Regions from separate parts of the Homo sapiens genome. Here regions 2, 3, 4 and 5 are each linked to region 1. The links come from fine-mapping of genetic effects on gene expression. A gene starts in region 1. Each other region holds a variant in brackets. All regions are shown on one strand. Distances are from middle to middle.

What was found. PIP is the estimated chance that this variant, and not a neighbour inherited with it, causes the effect.
Region 2: its variant is the best candidate, but not a certain one, in a credible set for the expression of EXOC2 in monocytes after LPS (Fairfax 2014, PIP 0.54).
Region 3: its variant is the best candidate, but not a certain one, in a credible set for the expression of EXOC2 in sigmoid colon (GTEx, PIP 0.53).
Region 4: its variant is the best candidate, but not a certain one, in a credible set for the expression of EXOC2 in whole blood (INTERVAL, PIP 0.69).
Region 5: its variant is the best candidate, but not a certain one, in a credible set for the expression of EXOC2 in monocytes (Kim-Hellmuth 2017, PIP 0.90).

What each region holds. Positions count from the first base shown.
Region 1 is chr6:690,981-695,100 of GRCh38, reverse strand. EXOC2 (exocyst complex component 2) reads left to right here and starts at 1,962. Exons shown (of 28, transcript NM_018303.6): 1 at 1,962-2,082. RefSeq lists enhancers at 1-319, 1,749-2,635 and silencers at 2,203-2,262, 2,273-2,342.
Region 2 is chr6:527,375-531,494 of GRCh38, reverse strand. The region is part of intron 23 of EXOC2 (exocyst complex component 2); the gene reads left to right. Among named protein-coding and RNA genes, the nearest start is that of HUS1B, 130 kb to the left of the region's middle. The variant A/G (reference allele first, on the strand shown) is at 2,360.
Region 3 is chr6:537,921-542,040 of GRCh38, reverse strand. The region is part of intron 22 of EXOC2 (exocyst complex component 2); the gene reads left to right. Among named protein-coding and RNA genes, the nearest start is that of HUS1B, 120 kb to the left of the region's middle. The variant C/T (reference allele first, on the strand shown) is at 2,025.
Region 4 is chr6:572,654-576,773 of GRCh38, reverse strand. EXOC2 (exocyst complex component 2) reads left to right here. Exons shown (of 28, transcript NM_018303.6): 12 at 1-17. Among named protein-coding and RNA genes, the nearest start is that of HUS1B, 82 kb to the left of the region's middle. The variant C/T (reference allele first, on the strand shown) is at 2,321.
Region 5 is chr6:483,797-487,916 of GRCh38, reverse strand. It overlaps EXOC2 (exocyst complex component 2), which reads left to right. Exons shown (of 28, transcript NM_018303.6): 28 at 1,153-2,763. The coding sequence ends at 1,246. Among named protein-coding and RNA genes, the nearest start is that of IRF4, 94 kb to the right of the region's middle. The variant G/A (reference allele first, on the strand shown) is at 2,331.

The DNA.
Region 1 (4,120 bases):
TGTATTTATAATCCCTGGGCTAGACATAAAGGTTCTCCAAGTCCCCACCAGACTCAGGAACCCAGCTGGCTTCACCCAGTGGATCCCGACCGGGGCCGCAGGTGGAGCCGCCTGCCAGTCCCGAGCCATGCGCCCACACTCCTCAGCCCTTGGGTGGTCGATGGGACTGGGGGCCGTGAAGCAGGGGGCAGCGCTCGTCGGGGAGGCTCGGGCGCACGGAAGCCCATGGCGGGGGGGGTTGGCTCAGGCACTGCAGGCTGCAGGTCCCCAGCCCTGCCCCGCGGGAAGGCAGCTAAGGCCCGGGGAGAAATTGAGCACAGCAGCTGCTGGCCCAGGTGCTAAGCCCCTCACTGCCCAGGGCCGGCGGGTTGGCTGGCCGCTCCGAGTGCCGGCCCGCTGAGCCCACGCCCACCCAGAACTCGCGCTGGCCCGCAAGTGCCGCACGCAGCCCGGGTTCCCACCAGCGCCTCTCCCTCCACACCTCCCCACAAGCTGAGGGAGCCGGCTCCGGCCTTGGCCAGCCTAGAAAGGGGCTCCCACAGTGCAGCGGTGGGCTGAAGGGCTCCTCAAGCACAGCCAGAGTGGGTGCCAAGGCCGAGGAGGTGCCCAGAGCGAGCGAGGGCTGTGAGGGCTGCCAGCACGCTGTCACCTCTCAAAACAATGTTTTAGTAGAAGTATATCCCATGCAACATTAGTTTAGTGATAAATATATCTATACTACAAATTACTTGTTGTTTATCTGAAATTAAACTTTACTGGGTATTTGTATTTTTATTGCTAAATCTGCCAACCTAGGTTGTTGAAACTTACTTTTTTCCACTTCACTTAATATTCTTTTCACAGTCCACTCTGACGAGATGTAGCTTCCCCACACTCCTTTGAAACTGCTTTTGTCAAGGATGCCAATGACTGGCATATGCCAAACTCAATTGTCTCTGGAGTCTTGGCCTCACAGTACTTCTGAACATTGGCTATCAATTCCTCCTTCCTGAAACTATTTAGCTTCCAGAATCCGCTACCCCCACTTTCCTGATTGTCCTTCCTCCCTGGCCATAGCCCCTGAACCCGAGCTTCCCCCAACCTAGAGCATCCCCTGACCCTAAGTATCCCCCCAACCCTGAGAACCCCCTGACCCCGAGTATCCCCCGACCTCGAGAACTCCCCGACCCCGAGCATCCCCCCAACCCCCAGCATCCCACGACCCCGGGCATCTCCCCCGATCCTGCGCATCCCCTGACCTGGTATGGCGCCCTGACCCAGTGCAGCCCTCAAACCCCTGCAGCCCCCTGACCCCATGCATCCTCCTGACCTAGGGCTGCCCCTGACTCAATGTTGCCCCCGGACCCCAGTGCCTCCTCCTGACCTGAGGCACGCCCCCCAACCTGGTACAGTCCCCTGATTCCAGTGCATCCTTCTGACCCAGTGCTGCCTCCTAACCTGGTGCATCCTCCTTACCCAGTGTGGCCCCCTGGGGATGCACACTCCAGTGCATCCTCCTGACCTGATGCTTCCTCTGGTCTCGGTGCAGCCCCCCTGACCTGGTGCAGCCCTCTGATTCCATGCATTCTCTTGACCTTGTGCATCCCCCTGTTCCGGAGGGGTCCTCTGACCCGATGCAGGGCCCATCGTTGTGAACTGTGGCCCACAAACGCACTATCATCCCACAGTCTCCCTGAGATGACCCGAGGGCACGGGGATGGATGGTGCACCCGGCCTGCCCCTTGAGCTTGTATCCTTCTTTCCCTCCCTCACCGCTTCCCGCCACCGCAAAGACGCCCAGCAAAAACCTCCTACTCGTGTCCATTCAGGCAGCTGGGTCCCTCGGAACCCAAGGCATTCCAGCGTCCACCGCCCACGGCCCCTGCTGACCTCCAGCACCCGCGCCGGTCTCCTCCCCTCCTCTACCCTCCCCTGAAGGCTCCGCCCATCGAGGACTCGGCGCTCGACTGCCAGGCGGATCTACACGCTCGGCGCTCGCGGCGGGCGGAAGTGAGGTGCCGGCGGCTGGCGGCCGCGGAGTCTTCGGCGAGACCTACCGGGCCCTGTCTGTGCCGGCCGTGAGCTGCGGCAGGACGGCTGGAGGTATGTGTGGGAGGCTGGAGGGCCTGGCCGAAGGCCAGCGGGACATGGACGTCAGCTGCACGGAGGTGGCCGCCTGCGGCGTCCGTCCAGGCCTCAGCGGTGAAGGGACAGCCGCGCCCACTGGCGCCGTCGGTCACCTGCGGGGCCCCGCGACCCCCCGCGGTTCCCAGCCCCGCAGCCCCCATCCCCGCCGTCAGCCGCCTGCTGGGCTCCGCGCCCACCCCCGCCAGTTCGCACCCCCGCGGTCCCCACCTGCGCCGGTGAGGGGCGTGGGCTGCAGAGGGCTGACTCCAGGCCCCGCCCGCTGGAGCTGGCCCCAGACTGCGCCGCTTCGCCCTTGCGCAGTTGCCACTCCGTGAGATTTGAGAATTTCTCCGGAAAAGTGAACGCGAGGCGGGTGTTACCTGTCTGCCTAGGCGTGCATCCCGCTCTGGCTGTCCTGAGCGCTTAAAAGGCGCCTGCCGCTGTTGTCAGCGTTTGCGTGCACGTACTTGATCCTCGCGCGGGTGTATGTACGCTGCCGTGTGACCCATTTTACGGATAGGGGAGCGGCGGCTCAGAGTGCTTGAGCAAAGAGCCTGAGGTCCTGTTGTAGCTGCCATTGAGACCTTGCGCGCCGGCTCCAGGTCCGCACACCAGCAGCCTGGAAGCCTGGTGATGCGTAACCCTGTATCCCAAGATTGTTAAGAAAACACTTTAGTAATTCCGAGAAATAGTTCTTGAAAGAACTCGTCTTTGAATGGAAGTAAGTTATTTTTAATCTGCCAAAGGTCAACATACTAATAAGTCTGAGAAATTTTAAGTCTGATGCCTTTATGAATCTGTGAGTAAACTTACAAGGAACACTTAAAAAATATTTTTTCTAAGTTAGCCACACTTTAATTAAATCTTTTTGTGTGCACTATGCAATATTGAAAAGTTACTTCTGAGCTTATGTGGATCTGTCTTCTAATGCATAATAATGTTTTGTTTATGAATGTTAGTATGTACTGGCCCATGCTTTGTGTAACTGACTCCTTTAATGACAAATCAACTGAAAGCCAGAATCTTCTCAAAGATGATTTTTTTGTGCTAAAAGTTGGCGATTCCCAGAGTAGTAATAGAAAGAGGGTGATGTGTGCTTAGTACTTACATGTTCACTTGTTTGTCTAAGTAGAAACTTAATAAATTAAAGCAGAGAAGCAGAGTTCCCCCAGTGTGACTTGGACCAACTCTTGGAAGTTTTAGAAAGTGATCTTTTTTTCTTGTCAAGTATTTAATTTCCTGTATTGAATGCCATTTTGAACTACAGTTGACCCTTGAACAACACTGGGGTTAGGGGTGCCCACGCAGTCAAAAATTTCCATGTAACTTTTGACTTTCCCAGGACTTTACTAATAGCCTACTGTTGACCAGAAGCCTTACTGATACATAAACAGTTGACTTACATGTATTTTGTATGTTATACGTATTATATACTGTATTCTTAAAGTAAGCTGAGAGAGGAAAATGTTAAAATCACAACAAATGTATTTACTCTTCTTTAAATGAAAGTGGAGAATCATGAAGGTTATTATCCCCATAGTCTGCATGAGTAGATTGTGGAGGAGGAAGAAGAGGAGGGATTTTCTCAGGAATGGCAGAGATGGAAGAGATGGAGGAAGTGAAAGGGGAGTGGGAGATGCAGGCACACTCAGTGCAACTTTTGTTGAAAAAATCCGTGTATAAGTGGATCTGTCTCATTCAAACCCATGTTGCTTAAGGGTCAACTGTATTACTTTTCTAAAAGATGGTTATTAACTTGCTAAGTTCTTGGGAGCCCATTATGTAAGAATCATATGGGAAATGAAGTTGGTACTGAAAAAATAGTCTTCTAGCAAAGAACTTTTAATATTTCTAGTGTCAAGCAGCAGCAAGATTAGGCCATACAGGAAGTGCTGGTTACAGAGGTGTCCTCTCAGTTACTTTTCCACTCATTCTCCAGTTTACGCATCTTAATCCAGCCTGGGTTCCTAGTCCAGCGTCTGCCACATAGTAGGTGCTTAAATGTTTATTGAAT
Region 2 (4,120 bases), 160 kb after region 1:
GACCACAGTTATTGAATTTCCTGAGCTCACAGTCATGGCAGTCATGCCAGCCCTTATTCCTCATGTGCTTTTCTGTGCACACACTTTTCTGTGCACACACTTTCTGTGCCCAAACCACATTCAGTTCATACCCTCAAAGTACATCCTTTTAAAGTTTAAGGCAGGTTCTATCAGTATCTTACTTAAAATTCTTACAACATCTTCTCATGATAGTAAAACCGGGGAAGCTGTGCTGTGCCCACCTCTGCCCTGGCACTCTGCCCACTGCCCCAATGCTCCACCTCACAGCCCCTCTCCAGCTGGACTCAACCTCTGCCTTTTTGAAAAGCTCATCCTTCTAAAATATAAATTGGATCCTGTCAATCCCCTGCTGAAAAACCTTCGAGGAGGCTCATTCTCCCTGAGGCTAACCCCAGACTTCTCAGACAAGGTAGCATCCCCACAGGTACCAGATTCCACGGATGCTCAAGTTCCCAGTGTGAAATGGTGTCATATTCGCATGTAACCTATGCACATCCTCCTGTATGCTTTAAATCATTTCTAGATTACTTATAACACCTAATACAATGCCCGTGCTTTGTGAATAGTTGTTAAACTGTATCATTTAGGGAGTCATGACAAGGAAGAAAGTTTGTATATGCTCAGTACAGATGCAGCCATCTGGGTCCCCCACCCCGGAATATTTTCCATTCATGGTTGGTTGAATCCACAGATGCAGAAGCCACTGTTGTGGAGGCCACAGATGCAGAGGCCACAGATGCAGAGGGCCAGCAGTACTCCCTGTGCTTGCTATGAGTTACTTCCCTCTCCACGGGCTCCCCCAGGCAGCAGGCAGGCTGGGTGCTTCGTGCACTGTGAACCCTGTGCCTAGTCCCTCTCACCTCTGCCCCTCTCCTAACCTCTCCTGCCCTTCCGGGCCCTGTGTCCTCTGGGAGCTCACCCAGCCCATCCCCTGCATGTCTCCAGGTCGCATTGGCCTACCTCCATTCGTGATGCTCCCAGAGCAGCTCTTGCCACTCTCTGTGCCCGCGGGAAATGTTTTGTCGTTATCTAGCTCCTTGCTGGACAGTCTCAGCACAAGGCCGTCATTTGGGTGTCTTGTTCTCAGAGTTTTTAGCATAGTGCAGTCTGTGACACTCAGCTGATGCTGTGTGTGTGTTTGTGGAGTAAATGAAGATTGGCATTTTCTATAATAATATACCATCTCTCTAAATGTGCCAGTTGCTCCTTCTCTTCTAAGTGTTTGCCATATGCTTTTGCCTGATTTTTCTCAAAATTTTCTCAGTAGGAAAGTACATTATACAGTGTTCTAGCTTCCACTGTTCTTCTGATTTGCTTTTTAATAAACAGTACACGGTGGATATTCATATTTGCTGAATGGGAATGAGTGAGAGTGCTCATTTTCTTGTCCTTTGTGAATTCTCATATGGTAGTTGCATAGACTTGCTAAATTTGAGCAGCTGCGTTTCAATTAAAATGCGACTGTCAAGTGTATCTAACACATCAGCACGTCTGTCTGTTTAACTATTTAAACTCTTACCGAACAATGTATTACCTTGCACCATGCAAAAAGTAATACATTTTTCGGTAATAGTTAAAATGAATTTTGTTAAAGTTCGTATCTTCCCCTGTGATTAGCATGTAACGACATTAACTGTTCACACATCTAACACATCAGCAATTCTATCTGTTTAGTTATGTAAACTATTACTGAACAATGTATTACTTTGCATCACCATGCAAAAAGTAATACATTGTTCAGTAATAGTTTAAATGAATTTTGTCAAAGTTCATATCTTTTCCTGTGATTCACATGTAAGTACGTTAACTGTTCACTCTGAAATCATGCTTATCTTAATTGGTTATGTTCAAGGCTATTAAATCACTTGTGATATTTCTTTGAGAATAGAAAAAAATCATGACACAGCCCCTCTGAGTTTCCTGCGCTTCAGTGATGACTATAAAAATTTAGAATGGGCCACCGAGTTTCACTCTCAACAAAGTGATTCTTCTCTGTCGTCACTGAAATCTCCGATTGTTACCGAGAAAGAGGATTTATTTGCCCCTGATGCAGAAGAAGACTTTTCTTTGCCAGCCCTCTCTCAGACCTGCTGCCTCCGTTAACAAACAGCGAGGCATCTTTAGTGTATGCCGAACACCGGCAGGGGCAGTCGAGAATGTCTGTCAGGTGAAAGGCAGGTCTTTCCCATCCACCCGCTCCAAGGTGTCTTCGGAAAACAGACATCTATGAAGGCCCATTCCCTGAAGGGCGGCGTTAGGTCACAGGACTTCAAGTGCAGGGGCTGCTGGCCATTATCACGAGGCTGTGAATCGTGTGGCAGCACTTGAGTGAGCAGTA[A/G]CCAGGGCGCGGGGGGGGGTAAAAGGCAGGCGATGCCGGGCTAACGGGGATCTTAGGGTTCTTCTGCATCCGGCTAGTTACCACCACTTGGAATTTCAAAGTCCTCACTGGATTTATCTTAGGGTTCTTCTGCATCCGGCTAGTTACCACCACTTGGAATTTCAAAGTCCTCACTGGATTTATCTTAGGGTTCTTCTGCATCCAGCTAGTTACCACCACTTGGAATTTCAAAGTCCTCACTGGATTTATTTAAGGTACCCAGAATCCTGTCTCTGTGACCTTCATATTTTCCAGCCATGACATTGAACTAGACAAGCCTCGGTTGTGAATTAGGATCAGAGCCTAAATGTAATCCTGAGGTTGATCTTAATAAGAGTCTGTAACCTCAGATAATCTTCACTACAAAATTAAGATTCTTCTGGCTGTGTGACATTAAGTGGTGAGGCTTTTTTTTTTAACATAGCTTCGTTTATTGGTTTTGTTTTTTTCCTGACAAACTTTCTTTCATAAGCAAATGGCACATGGCACCATACTACCAGCAATTTATTTACTCTTCCTCAGATTCCAAAAACATGTAGAAGTCATCGGTGCTCGTTTCACTTTTATAAACTCTATTTAGTTCTGTTCTTTGTGTAGTTTTGACTTCATGATTACTAACTGAACCTCAGCCTTGCATAGTCATATAGTGATTTTTAGTTTGTTTAAAGCTGACTTAAGTTGAGACCTTGTGTAAAGTGAGCAGCCAAAATAGTTTGACTATTAATCTTCCAAAATAATTTCAATTAACAACTTTAGTATTATCTTCAGAGTTTACTTCTTCAGAAACTGAATTTTGCAAATCATGTAGGTAACTGATTACTTATTGCTGTAGTTACCAATAAATTTAGTTTCCGATACTGTATGTAGTGATTAAAAAAAAAAATCCAGTTGATTAATTTCATGATTCAACAAGAGATATCCGTTAAAGCCGTAGCGATGTTTTTTTAAATCTTACCGTTGGGTATTTAAATTGTTGTCACCTCTTTATTTGTGTATATGTCAGTAAAGATTATTCTAGTTAGTTCTGAGTCACAAAACTGCTGTTAAGATTTTAATTGTTCTGTTATCTGCAATTATTAAGAGTTCTTAGTATTTGAATTTTATAAATTTTAAATAAGAATACTGTTGGTCTTTACTTACAAATACACATTGAAGTTCACGTCTTTGAAACATTAAATAAGAAAAAAGTATTATTTAAGTTTTCTGTTAAATACTGGTTTTATTTTTTCTATCAAAAAGTCATAAAAATTTAAATTAATGTATATTATTTAAAGTTATTTACTAAGTGAATCTAAACTTAATCATTTTCTATAGGTAAATAGTGAACTTATTTTTGATTCAAATGTGCTTATACTAATTATAGTAATTGAAATTATAATGGGAAAGGGAAAACTTTATATAATTTGTGACATGAGTATGTCTAGGACCATTCTAAAAATAACAGCAGAGTTGGTTGCTTCCATGTATGATGCATATAACCTAGAGTAGGGTAACCTCCTGCCCGTCAGTGGTGTGCCAGAGCACAGGCTTGGGGTGCACAGTCCATCAGTGAGCGAAACTTGTAAGTGTGTTGTCCAGGCAGTGTGCCAAGCAGCATATTCCAACAAATTGAAGAGAAAGAAAATGTAAGTCTAATTATGGAGACAGAGGCAGAAGCACAGCTCTTCTCAAGTCTATGTTTGTTGAATTTTATTTTAAGATCTCTGCCTTTTGGAATGTATC
Region 3 (4,120 bases), 150 kb after region 1:
CATAAATAAGATTATATGGTGTGTGTTTTTCTGTGACTTTGTTTTCCCACTCAGTATTATTTTGAGATGTATCCATGTTGTAGCATGTAGGTCATGCTCGTTTGTAACATGAATTAAAGAATATATTCCTTTTTCTTCTTTGAAAGAGTTTGCATAAGATTGGAATTATTTATTCTTTGAATATTTAGAAAAACGCTCTGGTAGTGGTATTTTCCGTATGCCCAGATTTTCTTTGTGAGATGATTGCTAATGACTGGCCCAATTTCTTTAATGGTTATAGAACCATCCAGCTTTTTATTTCTTCATGTTAATCGTAGTCATCTATATTTTTCTAGGACTTTGCCCATTTTGCTTAAATTTTCAAATCTGTTGGCGTAAAATTGTTTTATAACAGTTTTATTACTTCAACCTCAGCTGCGATGTGGTCCTTATTTGTACTTACTATCGCTTGTTTGTATTTTTATTCCTTCAACCTCAGCTGCGATATGGTCATTTTTTGTACTTACTATCGCTTGTTTGTATTTTTATTCTTTGTTTCTTGCCAGAGTCTTTTTCAGAGAATAACTTTTGACTTTAGTAGTGCTCTCTCGTTATATCCTTGCTTTCTCTTGCAGTAATTTGGACTCTAATCTTGTTTATTTACATAGTTCATTAATTCTAAACCTTTCTGTCTTTTAATATGAACATTTAAGGCTGTGAATTTCCCTCTAAGTGTCTTTTTAGCTGTGTTTCCCATGTTTTCGCAAGTGGTATTTTAGTTATTCTTCATTTTTTTTAGTTTTGAATTTTAATATTCTATTTTAGTCTTGGCTAGAAGTATGATTTTAAATTTCCAAGCTAAGGGAGCAGAGGAGCAGTTGGAATTAGTTTTCTCTTTGTTAGAGATTTCTAACATCATTGTTCTGAGGTCAGAGAATATCATGTTTTTAGGTTTGCTGAGGCTTGCTTTGTAAGCTCATATGTGGACAGTTTTCTGAAACCCTACCTCGGTTGAAAAGATCGTGTCCTTACGTTTTGGATACCACATTCCACAGATGTCTATTACATCGGGTTTGTGGATTATGTTGTTCAGTCCTTTTGTTTGTTTGGTTTGGACTTTGATCTCTTGATTACTGAGAAAAATGTAGTAAGGTTTTTCCTTGGCTCCTTTTTAGATACTTTATTTGCCTCTTCTGTTCTGTATTTTTATTATGTGTCTTGGTATTATTATGTTTTTTGGCCTGTTTGTTCCCTTGGCTCTGGTTGATGTCTTTAATCAATTCTGGAAAGTTCTAAGCCATTATCTCTTCAAATATTTTTTCTTCTCCATTCAAACTTTTCTGTCCTTTAAGATCTCCTATTGGGTGTATGTTAGACCTTCTCACTCTATTCTTCACATCTCTTAATTTTTTTCTTTTTTATTCTCCTCATCTTTAATTGTCTGTACTGATTGGGGTAATCTCCTCAGCTCTCTCTTTTTGTTCCTTGTTTCTTCAGTTGTGTCTAATCTTGCTGAAATTTACTGTGTATTGAAATGTTATTTCAGTTGTGTTTCTTCTCCAGAAACTTTGTTTTTTGTTACTAAGTAAGGGGAAATTATTAACTTACTCTGGAATGGTATAATTCAGAAATCAGGGAAGGAGATAGTGGTAGCAGTAAAGTTCTTTCCAGTGTCTTTCCGATTATTCTGTATAGATAGAAAATCAAATCGTCAAGGATAAGATTATCCTATTGAGAACAGTGGAGCAAACAATTGAAGCCTAATATATAGGATGTGAGGTGACTAACTTGATTATTAAAAATTCCTGGCTGGGTGTGGTGGCTCCTGCCTGTAATCCCTGCACTCTGGGAGGCTGAGGTGGGTGGATCACCTAAGGTGAGGAGTTCAAGACGAGCCTGGCCAACATGGTGAAACCCCATCTCTACTAAAAATAAAAAAATTAGCTGGGCATGGTGTGCGCATGTGTGGCTTGGAAGCCCTCGCTAACAAGTCCTGGAGACACAGGCTGTCCTTCTGTTTCAGGTGACAGTATATCCTGTTTCAT[C/T]TGTAGTTTTCTTTTTTGTGTTAATACTTCTCCTAGGAATTAAGAGGTTTTTTAAAATTAGTTATTTACTTGGCATTTATTTTGCCCCCATTTGACAAGTTGTGGTTCAGTAATATAAAGGAATGTCAGTTTGCCACCTGTCCTGCCATCCATTTGAAAAGAGCTAAAAAAAATTAATTTGTCTGAACCTAGTTATCCAGAGTCACTTGGATAGATGTTCTAATGATAGTTTGATGACCTTATTTCTATACAGATGGCCAAATTGGAATGAAAATAATTGTTTGTTGTTTATTTTCTTTCTTGGAAGCATAATTTTTAAAAAACATTATTATCAAAAAGTTTTTAAAATCACAAATTGGAAATTTTAAATTGGAAACATTAAAATACATCAAAATAATGATGTTATCTTTTAAACCATTGTGACTGTGTTGAAGACAACAGTAAAGAAGTTAGAGAAATTTGACAATCGACTTAGGCATCTCTTCTCCAGGACTGTCCATTGGGAGCACTGGCTGGCATCAGTGCCTGGTGCGTGAGATGGAAATGTTGTTGAGTGTACGTGATTGCTGCTAAGAAAGGCAGGGCGGTGGCTTATTGGGAGCACTGGCTGGCATCAGTGCCGGTGCGTGAGATGGAAATGTTGTTGAGTATATACATGATTGCTGCTAAGGTGGCAGGGCGCTGGCTTATTGGGAGTATTGTCCATTACACCAGAATTCTGCCTCCAGCATACGCCTTTTACTTCTGTAAGTTATTACCCACAGTTTTTTAATGCTTCGAAAGACCCTCCTCAGTGCTAATATGTACGAATTCAGTGAGTAAGTCTATTTCTGAATACAGATATTCCTGAACTTATGATGGGGCTACCTCCAGATAAACCCTTCCAAAATTGAAAATATCGTAAGCGCATTTTCTACTTATGATATTTTCTTTTTTTTTTTTTTCTTCAGACAGAGTCTTGCTCTGTCACCCAGGCTGTAGTGCAGTGGTGTGATCTTGGCTCACTGCAACCTCCGCCTCCCGGGTTCAAGCAATTCCTGCCTCAACCTCCCTAGTAGCTGGGATTACAGGCACCTGTCACCACAGCCGGCTAATTTTCGTATTTTTAGTAGAGACAGGGTTTCACCATCTTGGCCAGGCTGGTCTTGAACTCCTGACCCCGTGATCCACCCGCCTCAGCCTCCCAGCGTGCTAGGATTATAGGCGTGAGCCACTGTGCCCGGCCAGATATTTTCTACTTACAGTGGGTTTAACCTGACGTAGCACATCATAAGCCAGGGAACATACTGAATGCGCATTGCTTTTACACCCTGGTAAAGTGGGAAAATCATGAGTTGAACTCTCATAAGTTGGGACTGTCTGTACACAATTAAATTGTTATCTTTTTTAAAGGAGGCACTGTGTTTTTGTTAGAGACACCTGCCCTAAAAGGCCACTGGACCCTCAGGCATGTCTACTCTGCTGCCTTTCTCACCCCCATCAGTGACCCTTTAGCGCTCCGTCTCTGTTTAACCACTGCATTCCTTAAACACATCACTTTATAAGACTGATTTCCTTAGTGTCAGGATGTTTTTAAAGTTAATCTTTCTTCCTCACTCTCAGATAGCGATTAATGGTAGATGGATCTGACCCTTGCTTTTTGAGCAGGAATCAAGCAGACCCAGTTTTCTATGTTCAGCAGCCAGTGTGAACAGGGTGTTAGTGAAAATGAGGCTGTTGAGTTAATAGAAATAGCTGCTAGCATTTATTATGTATTTGCTTTCAGTGTGCTATGCAAGTTTCCTGAATTATCTGTTTAAATCCTTACAACAAAAAGTATGAGCTGTGTACTCCTGACATTGATCCTGCCTCATCACACATTAATACTGCCATTCTACTCTCTTTTTGTAGCATTTGCCTATTAACTGTTTGCACATCTATTTATTTTCAACTCCTCTTTTCCCTTCTTTTTTTAAAAAATGAGGTGTAATTTACCTACAGTAAAAGACACAAATCTTAAGCTTATGGATTGATGGCTTTTTACATATGCACACGTTCCAGCATCCACCACCAGATGAAAATACAAAACCTTCCCTTGTGCCCTGTTTGAGTAGGCT
Region 4 (4,120 bases), 120 kb after region 1:
GTCTGGTCGAGACGACAGTAAGTATCTCCCTCCACTGCCACTGGGTCTTTTAAATTTGTACTCGTGTAATTTCAAACATTCTTCTCTTGGAAAATTCCCCAATTTGTGTTGATACTGGTGCTAAGTATTATCAGCCATCATCGCTTTTGCTTGTTACAGTAACTACCAGTAATTTAATAATTAAAATATATATTACATTTAAAGGAATGCTATTTGATTTTTAAGTCATTGGGTGCAGGTCAGTGCTTATTAAACATATTTAGTTCAAGTCTAGTTTTACTTTTTCTGTGGTTGAATTTTTTTAAAGTGCCACAGAAAAAAATTCTGTGAGAACTTCATTAAGATGGAATTTGCGATAAAAGTAGTATCAGTATACCTTTTTTGATGAAATTTAAACTTTGGTCTGGAAAGAGGGATTGGCTGTTAATTAACCATAAAATACTTGCTAATAATTTTTCCTAAGATGAAGCATCTAAAATTTTAAGTATGTTGCATTTCTGAACTTTCTGGAGTGGATATTTACCATTTTCCTATTTGAGATACAACATGATCGACTATCAGGCATTCTTGCACCAAATTAGATGCCACTAGTCAGGAGCCATTTGTGATCTCAATAACAGATATAAGAAACCCAAATAGACTAATAGAAATACCTTACATTGTATTAAATTCAGATACCTGTACAGTTGTTTTAAAATGTCTTATATTATTCTTAACAAGCATTGCAGTAGGGAATTTTTCGAAGGTTTTATTAATATAAATGAATGTTCATCATAAGAGCACCTTAAAATTAGATGATTCATTTGTACTAAATGAAAGGCTTCCATAACTGTTGGTATTCCTTCTTCTTGTCCGATTCTCATTCCTCTCCCAGCTCACCAAACATTAGAACAAACAATGTTAGATCAGAACCGTTTGCTCCTACATTCTGTGGGACAGCAGCTAACATTATATAATGTTCAATGTAATTGCACAGAGGAGCTGAGATCTTTTGAAACATTATTCTTGGGAAAGATACCATGTAAGAATCCATTTGCTGCCATATTAAGCTGTGTTAGTCTGTTTGTGTTGCTATAAAGGAACACTGAGGCTGGGTAGTTTATAAAGAAAAGAGGTTTATTGGCTCACAGTTCTGCAGGCTGTACAGGAAGCATTGCGCCGGCATCTGCTACTGGGAGGCCTCAGGAAGCTTCCAGTCATGGCAGAAGGCAAAAGGGGAGCCAGCATGTCGCATGGCAGGAGATGGAGCGAGGGAGAGGATGGAGAGGGAGCGAGGGAGAGGATGGAGAGGGAGCGAGGGAGAGGATGGAGAGGGAGTGAGGGAGAGGATGGAGATGCCAGGCTCTTTTAACCCATTTCCCATTTAGGGAAAAAAGGTGCAGCTCACTGCTGGTGCTCACTTAATTTACATAAACATGTTCTTTGAGGCTGAAGCAAATATCACTGATTTTCAGTGTGAAAACAAAATATAAGAACTGTTCTTGGAATTATTTCTAAACAACTCGTCTCTAATCCTAATGTAATAGAAATGTAAATGGTGTTCCATTAGGATTAGAGACAAGAGTGTTCTCGGGGCACACGGGCAATGGGTGAAACAACTAGATCTTGTGTGAACTCATAGAGCAAGAACTCACTCATTATTGCAAGGACACCAAGCCATTCACGAGGGGCCCGCCCCCATGGCCCTCCTGCAACATTGGGGATCACATTTCAACATGAGATTTGGTGGGGACAAAACATCCAAATCGATCAAAGGCAAATCTTTCAGTGCTTCCATTTTTAGATTTTCTTGTCCTGTTTTTCACCTTGTCATTGGACCCTTGACGCAGCTGGCCATGGCCTCGCCCTGTGGCACGCCACCTGCCATCTGGAAAACAGGCATTACCAACTACTGTTGGGGAGAGGAGTCTGTAACTGCTGTCTCCAGATGAAACCCACTCACCTCAGATTACCATCATGGTGTATTCAATTGGTTAATTGACTGTTCTGTTAGATTCTAAGCTGTGAAGGCAGAGCCTGCCTTGTTCAGCATTCAGAGTGAGTTTTGATCTTGGGTGGAGCCACATGATAAGCACACGGTTAATCCTCAATAAATATTAGCTGAATGAAAAATAAAAGTTTACAGTGTGCCCTTAAGTAAAGAACCGTTCCTTTCACACCTGTGAAAATGAGTTTAAAACTTTTTCCTGCAACTCCTAGCATAGACAAAGGGCTAATATACCTAATAAATAAAGAGGCTCTATAGCCTACACAGAGGACGTGTCAGTGGTTCTTACACGTGTGAGTAGACACTCAACCCCACAATAGTAAGAAGAAAGGT[C/T]GCATAACACTACAATGAGATACGAGGTTGGCAAAAACTCTGAGTGTTTATCGTTTTGTTTTGGGTTTTCTATGTTTGTTTGTTCATTGATGAGGCCACTACTTGCACGTGTCACCGGTGGAAGTATGAGGGCATACTTCCTTTAGAGGGCAGTTCAATAATATCTATCAAAATTACAACCACAGGTGCTCTTTGTCCCAGCAATTCTTGTTCTGGACGTTTTCTATGCTTTCACTTGAGCATGTGCTAAATGATATAGGTATACAGTTACTGGCTGAAACATTCATTTTAATTGCAAAAGACCGAAGACAGTCTTGTCCATTGGAAGGGAACTTGTTAAATTACGATACGTCAAAAATGTGAAAGGCAGTATAACTGTGGGGAGAAAAAGAGGAAGCCTTTGCCTTACGTTTGAATACAGAAGAACTCCAGGATCCATCGCTAAATGGAAGAAGCCAAGCTTCAAAAGAGTGTGTTTGGCCTTTCGTTTGTGTAAAAACCAAAAACGTGTAAAGAACAGTTGGGAGGGAGAAAAACACATTTATACTTGCTTGTGTATATAAAAAATATTTCAGAAAGAGTCACAATAACTAGTGACAGTGGTTTCTTCCGGCTGGGAACTAGGCACTTGGGAGTGGAGGGGCAGGAGGTAGACTTTTCACTGTGTACCTTTCAGGTGTCATTTTCTAACCATGTATTACCTGATCAAATAACTATTTAAATTATTAAATCATTAATAAATTATTAATACAATTTTATTAATAAAATTTCTTAATAAAATTAAGAAATTTTATTAATACAGTTTATAAAATTTGCCCTTCCTTCACTGGACTAACAACAGCAAATCCTTTTGCTTGGGGGTATTTGGAAAGGAAGCTAGCAATTAGCCTGGCCCAGGGAATAAACGTTCTCATGGGAGTCCACCTGCCCCTGAAGTTGCTGAGTAGGAGTTAGAGCCTGATCCGCGGCGTCATTGTGCTGAGGACTGGACGGGGTGGACTCTGCAGTGCCCCTGCCATGGCCACCGAGTGGAGTGCGGGGCGGGAGGCAGGTGGGAGGCAGCAGGGCGAAGGCATGGCCCTGGGAGTGAAAAGAAAGAAGGGAGACAGAGGACATGGTGAGTGGGTCCTGAATTTCTACACTTGCTTTATTCCCATGAACCTGTTCTTCCCACAAGAAGTCTAAGCCCTTATTTCCCAGTTACAGCAATAGCTATGTTAAATGATGTATAGCCAAAGAGGTTTCAACGTTTCTAGTTTTTCTTAAATTTCTTTATTTTAGGTGGGGTTATTTAGTATGTGATTGCACTAGAATGTTTCCTTGTGATAACTGGATTCCTTCCTGCATTCTCACTTCCCAGGGTGTATGATGGCATTTCTCACAGGCTGATCAGCTGCAATTTCACAACTGGCTGCACAGCAGCCCCTGCCTTTGCTGTTAGAAGGCGGGACTTTTTGAAGAGACGTTTACTATCCAGAGGACAAGGCTGATAAGTCAAAGCCACCTCCTCTCGGTAGCCCTCCCAGTACTGAGGCTGTGGCCACCTGGTCCCTTGCCCTGGCTTGCTGGTCAGCCATGAGGGAGAGGGGCTCTTCCTTGCCAGAGGGCAAGGAGAAATGCGGGGGTGTCTGGTGACGAGCGTACCGCTGCCGGTGTCAGCCAGGTGGGCCGCGAGCGTCCACGCAGACTCAGGCTATTCCTAGTGCATGTTGGAGTTTTGCGGGAGTGGAGGGGGGTGCGCCAATATGCTCAAAGGTGTTTTCTTGATTCAGAAGTACAATCATAGTATTTTATTCTTTT
Region 5 (4,120 bases), 210 kb after region 1:
AGGTAGTGTGTCACGAACAATACACACCCTGAAATGGCCCCAGGTCAGGACTATATTTTAGATTTGCTGTGGGGATAGCATTCTAATATTGAACATTGTTAAACCGTGAAATAATCTCTTGACCTCAGTACTGTTAAACCCAGTTCTTGGTTGCTGCATCCAAACCAGGAAAACTCTAAGATCCTTCCTAGCTTTAAAAATTAGATGACTTGGGCCGGGCGCAGTGGCTCATGCCTGTAATCCCAGCACTTTGGGAGGCTGAGGTGGGCGGATCACGACTTCAGGAAATCAAGACCATCCTGGCCAACATGGTAAAACCCCGTCTCTACTAAAAATACAAAAATTAGCCGGGTGTGGTGGCGGGCACCTGTAGTTTCAGCTACTCAGGAGGCTGAGGCAGGAGAATTGCTTGAATCCGGGAGGTGGAGGTTGCAGTGAGCCGAAATCGCGCCACTGCACTCCAGCCTGGGCGACAGAGCAAAACTCCATCTGAAAAAAAGAAAAAAAATTAGATGACTGTATCACATCAGTTGGGGAAACAGATTGCGATATCAGGCAGCAAAGCGATTTGCCTAGTGGAATTAGCCCCTAACCCTGCTTGCCCTGGTGGTTAACTCACTGCTTTCGCTCCCCACTCTCTAATACCTGTTAATACAAAATGAGAGGAAGGGAAAGTCAGCAGTGGCTGCTGGGAGATGGGGTTAGGGAAGAGGCTGACTAGAGGGGCAGCAGGGGAAAGGGTGCAGCCATGCCACGTGCTGTAGCCTGTTACACTCCGGTATGGCTTTGCCAGCGTTCATAGAACCATCTAACAAAAAGTGAATTTGAAGGTGTGTAAATTATTTTAGAGTTGAATTTCTAAAAAAGAATAGGCCCAAACATCAGTCTGTATTAGGGAGGAATCTAATCTTGGGAGGGGATAGGAAGGAGATGTTTCTGTACAAACATAAATACGTTATCAGTATATCCTATTTGATCAACTTCTTTGATGTGTTTCTTTTGCTGAGTTAAGGATCCATAGGTAGAACTTTTCAGCTGCCTTCTCCACACAGCAAGCCCAGGCAGAGCCGGGCACTGGCTCCCCTGGTGTTTTCTTGCGTTGCTAGGCCGCCCCATCTGTCGGGCTGTAAAACAAGTGTCTCCGTCCTGCAGGTTACTGGAAGAGCTCCTGAACAAGTTCAAGAGTAGCATGCACTTGCAGCTCACCTGTTTCCAAGCAGCTTCTTCAACCATGATGAAAACATAAATATCTGCCACATAAAAGAAGTCCAGGAAAATAACACGTAATAAGACTGTTCACTCTCTAAGTACCCTAAAGGTATTTGGTGTATTAAACATTGGGTTTGCCATTTTTCTCTTTTTTCTTCCTCTGACTTCGAAAATTGTTGGTATACATTTCAACCAAAATGACCTCATTTGAAATGCCCAGGAAGTATTTGTTTTGCCATTCTTACTAGATCAGATCCTGTATGACTTTAAAATACATTTTAAAATATATTTTGCATCTCAGCAGAAGGTTGAGTGCTGCAGGAAGAGCTGCTTCTGCAGGGAGTTTTCTGGAATGGCGTGGCACATATTGAAGCATTTCTCAGTGTCCCGTTCACGGAAGCGCAGGCAGCTCCCACGACACACGGAGAGACTGACTGATACGAGATTTGGAAAGCTATGTAGACATCTTTGGAGCTCTTACTGTCCTAAACTGTACAGCTGTGCTTAAAACCCTCATTTCATATAAATGGCCTTAAGTTTTCTAATTCAAGCGGGTTTTTGGAAAAATTTATGGTCTCCATTAAAATACATATTACAACTGGGGTAGATTATTTGTGGTCCAGGTGTCTGTGATTTAACTTTGCGTTTTGCTATCTGATTTTTATTTTTCACAGGGCTAAGCATGAGCTTTCATTCTCACTCACTCTTAATTTGTCGTGCGTCACTACACATGCACGTGTTGCAGTCCCTGAGGCCCTGTGTGTTATCTGTGATGGAGTGTGAATGTGTAACGGGCACTGTGTTACACTCTGAGGTGTTGGCGGGGCGGTCGCAGACTTCAGGGTCCCCTAACGGAAAGGCCAGGCTCCGCGTGGACGGCCAACTCCCTGCCCGCTCCTTCAGCAGGTGACTGTCTCTGCCACTTCTTACCTGCTGAAGGATCTTGCTCAGTAGCTGGAACAATGCTGCTGTCACACAGTCTCTTCTCTGAAACTTCAGGATGCTCCTTGGTCACCAGGCAATGGGAGCTGTAGACCAGCCGCATGCACTTGCCCCACATTCACTGCTGACTGGCTTCACTGGAATAGGTTCAGGTCACCGGGACTTCTCTCAGAGTCAGC[G/A]GCCCACCCAACTCCCTCATACCGTCGCATCTGAAAATTTTCAGAGAGGAATTCTCTTTGTAGTCGGCTTGTCAGGGTTTTCAAGTTTTTCTATGGTTATTTTTAAATCTCTTTTTTTAAATGCTAAAATTAATGTCCTCATTAATGCAAGTAATTTTAGAGCACAGTGTAGCCATGTACAGTTTCCATTATTTAAAATAAATAAATGTGTTGGTTCATTTGGTGTATGGGGGGACATCATGGTAACTGGAAATGAAAGTTTAATCTTTCACAAATGTGCTTGATAAAGCTGTTAAGAATTGTCTTTCCTAAGTATGTTAACTGTTGTATCTAACTCAACTGTGAGCTAAGTTTAAAAACTGCAATCATGAATGTTTGTGATATTTTAAATATCTACTACAGCACATTCAGCCAATAAAGAATCTGCCTTTAATGTAAGTTGTAATTTACTTGACATTTTTCCCTAAGTGTCTTTATTTCAACATTTTCATATTTCTACTGTTAACACCCAAAATACTTACATTCTGGTTAACCCTGTATTGGTAAACACATTGTCAGAAACCATCTGTCAGGTCCTGCTAATTCTGTTTGCTGGGGACTTACCATGTGCGAGGCACACCATGAAGTGCCTCGTTGAATCCTCACAACAGCCTTATGATACATGTGGGCTAGCTTACCGCCACGTCCATTTAGCAGAGGAAGGAATCAGGGCTTAGAGAGAGGTTGGTGACTTCCGTAAGACTGCAAGGCAGTAAGTAGCAGGACTCATGTTCACACTCTGGCTCTGTATGTCCTTGACTTCACTACTGCTCAGCTCTTCCTTCCAGCGGAATATGCTTTCTGACATCCATCCACCTGGGTCACAGCTCAGAGAAAGTTCATCAATTCCAGAGGCTAATAAACAGTAGCAACACGGAAACCGGTAGTGCTTTTATGGCTCAGAGTGGAAGGTAAAGGCCTAAAAACCCCATACCCAAGTGAGGGAGTTCAAGGACTACTATTCCAACAAGTCAGGGGGGACTTCTTGGAAGAAAGGGGGATTTCAAGAGCTACTTGAGTTACAGAACCCTGGTTTAGTGGGTAAGAGGAGATGAATATGAAATAAGTTAGATGAAAGCCGAGAGAGAAACCAGGACCTGGAGCAAGTTAACGAGGCAGCTGAGAAAACAAATTAGGGAGGTTCAAGGTACTTCAGTGCTCCAGTGGCATTTCATTTCCAGCACACCCATGTTCTTTGTGGGTCACAGCATGGCTTCATGTGAGTTAGCTGAGCTGGCCTCACTTGAATGGGAAAGAGCTATTAGAAATCACTTGGTTTTTTACTAAGACTTTCTTTATCAGTGTACCATGAAAGAGCATATTCTAGAAATGATTTGGGCATTGCAAAACAAGCATCATTGCCTTAGGCTGAGCACACTGACTCATTCTCCTGTCTCTTGTCATCTTTGCATGTAGATTTTTTTAAAGGGAAGAAATAGAAGAGATTATATTTTTATTCTGGATTTGGTACAAGGTGGTGGTGTGTATTTCTGTTTTGATCACGTGCTATGGGATATTCTGTTAGTTTCATAAGCGTGTTGTGTAATGTTTTCAGAAAAGTTACAAATTTTAACTAGTTTTTAAATCAAGATTAGGTTTCTAAAAGTCAAATATATTTTATGTAATATTCATAAAATAATTATGCATAGACTAAACTTGCATACATTTTTGTCACTGAACATTTATCTGTTGGTTCTGTTGCAAAGATTTTCATATAGATCTGTGAACTGCTCTGAAAGATATATTTAATA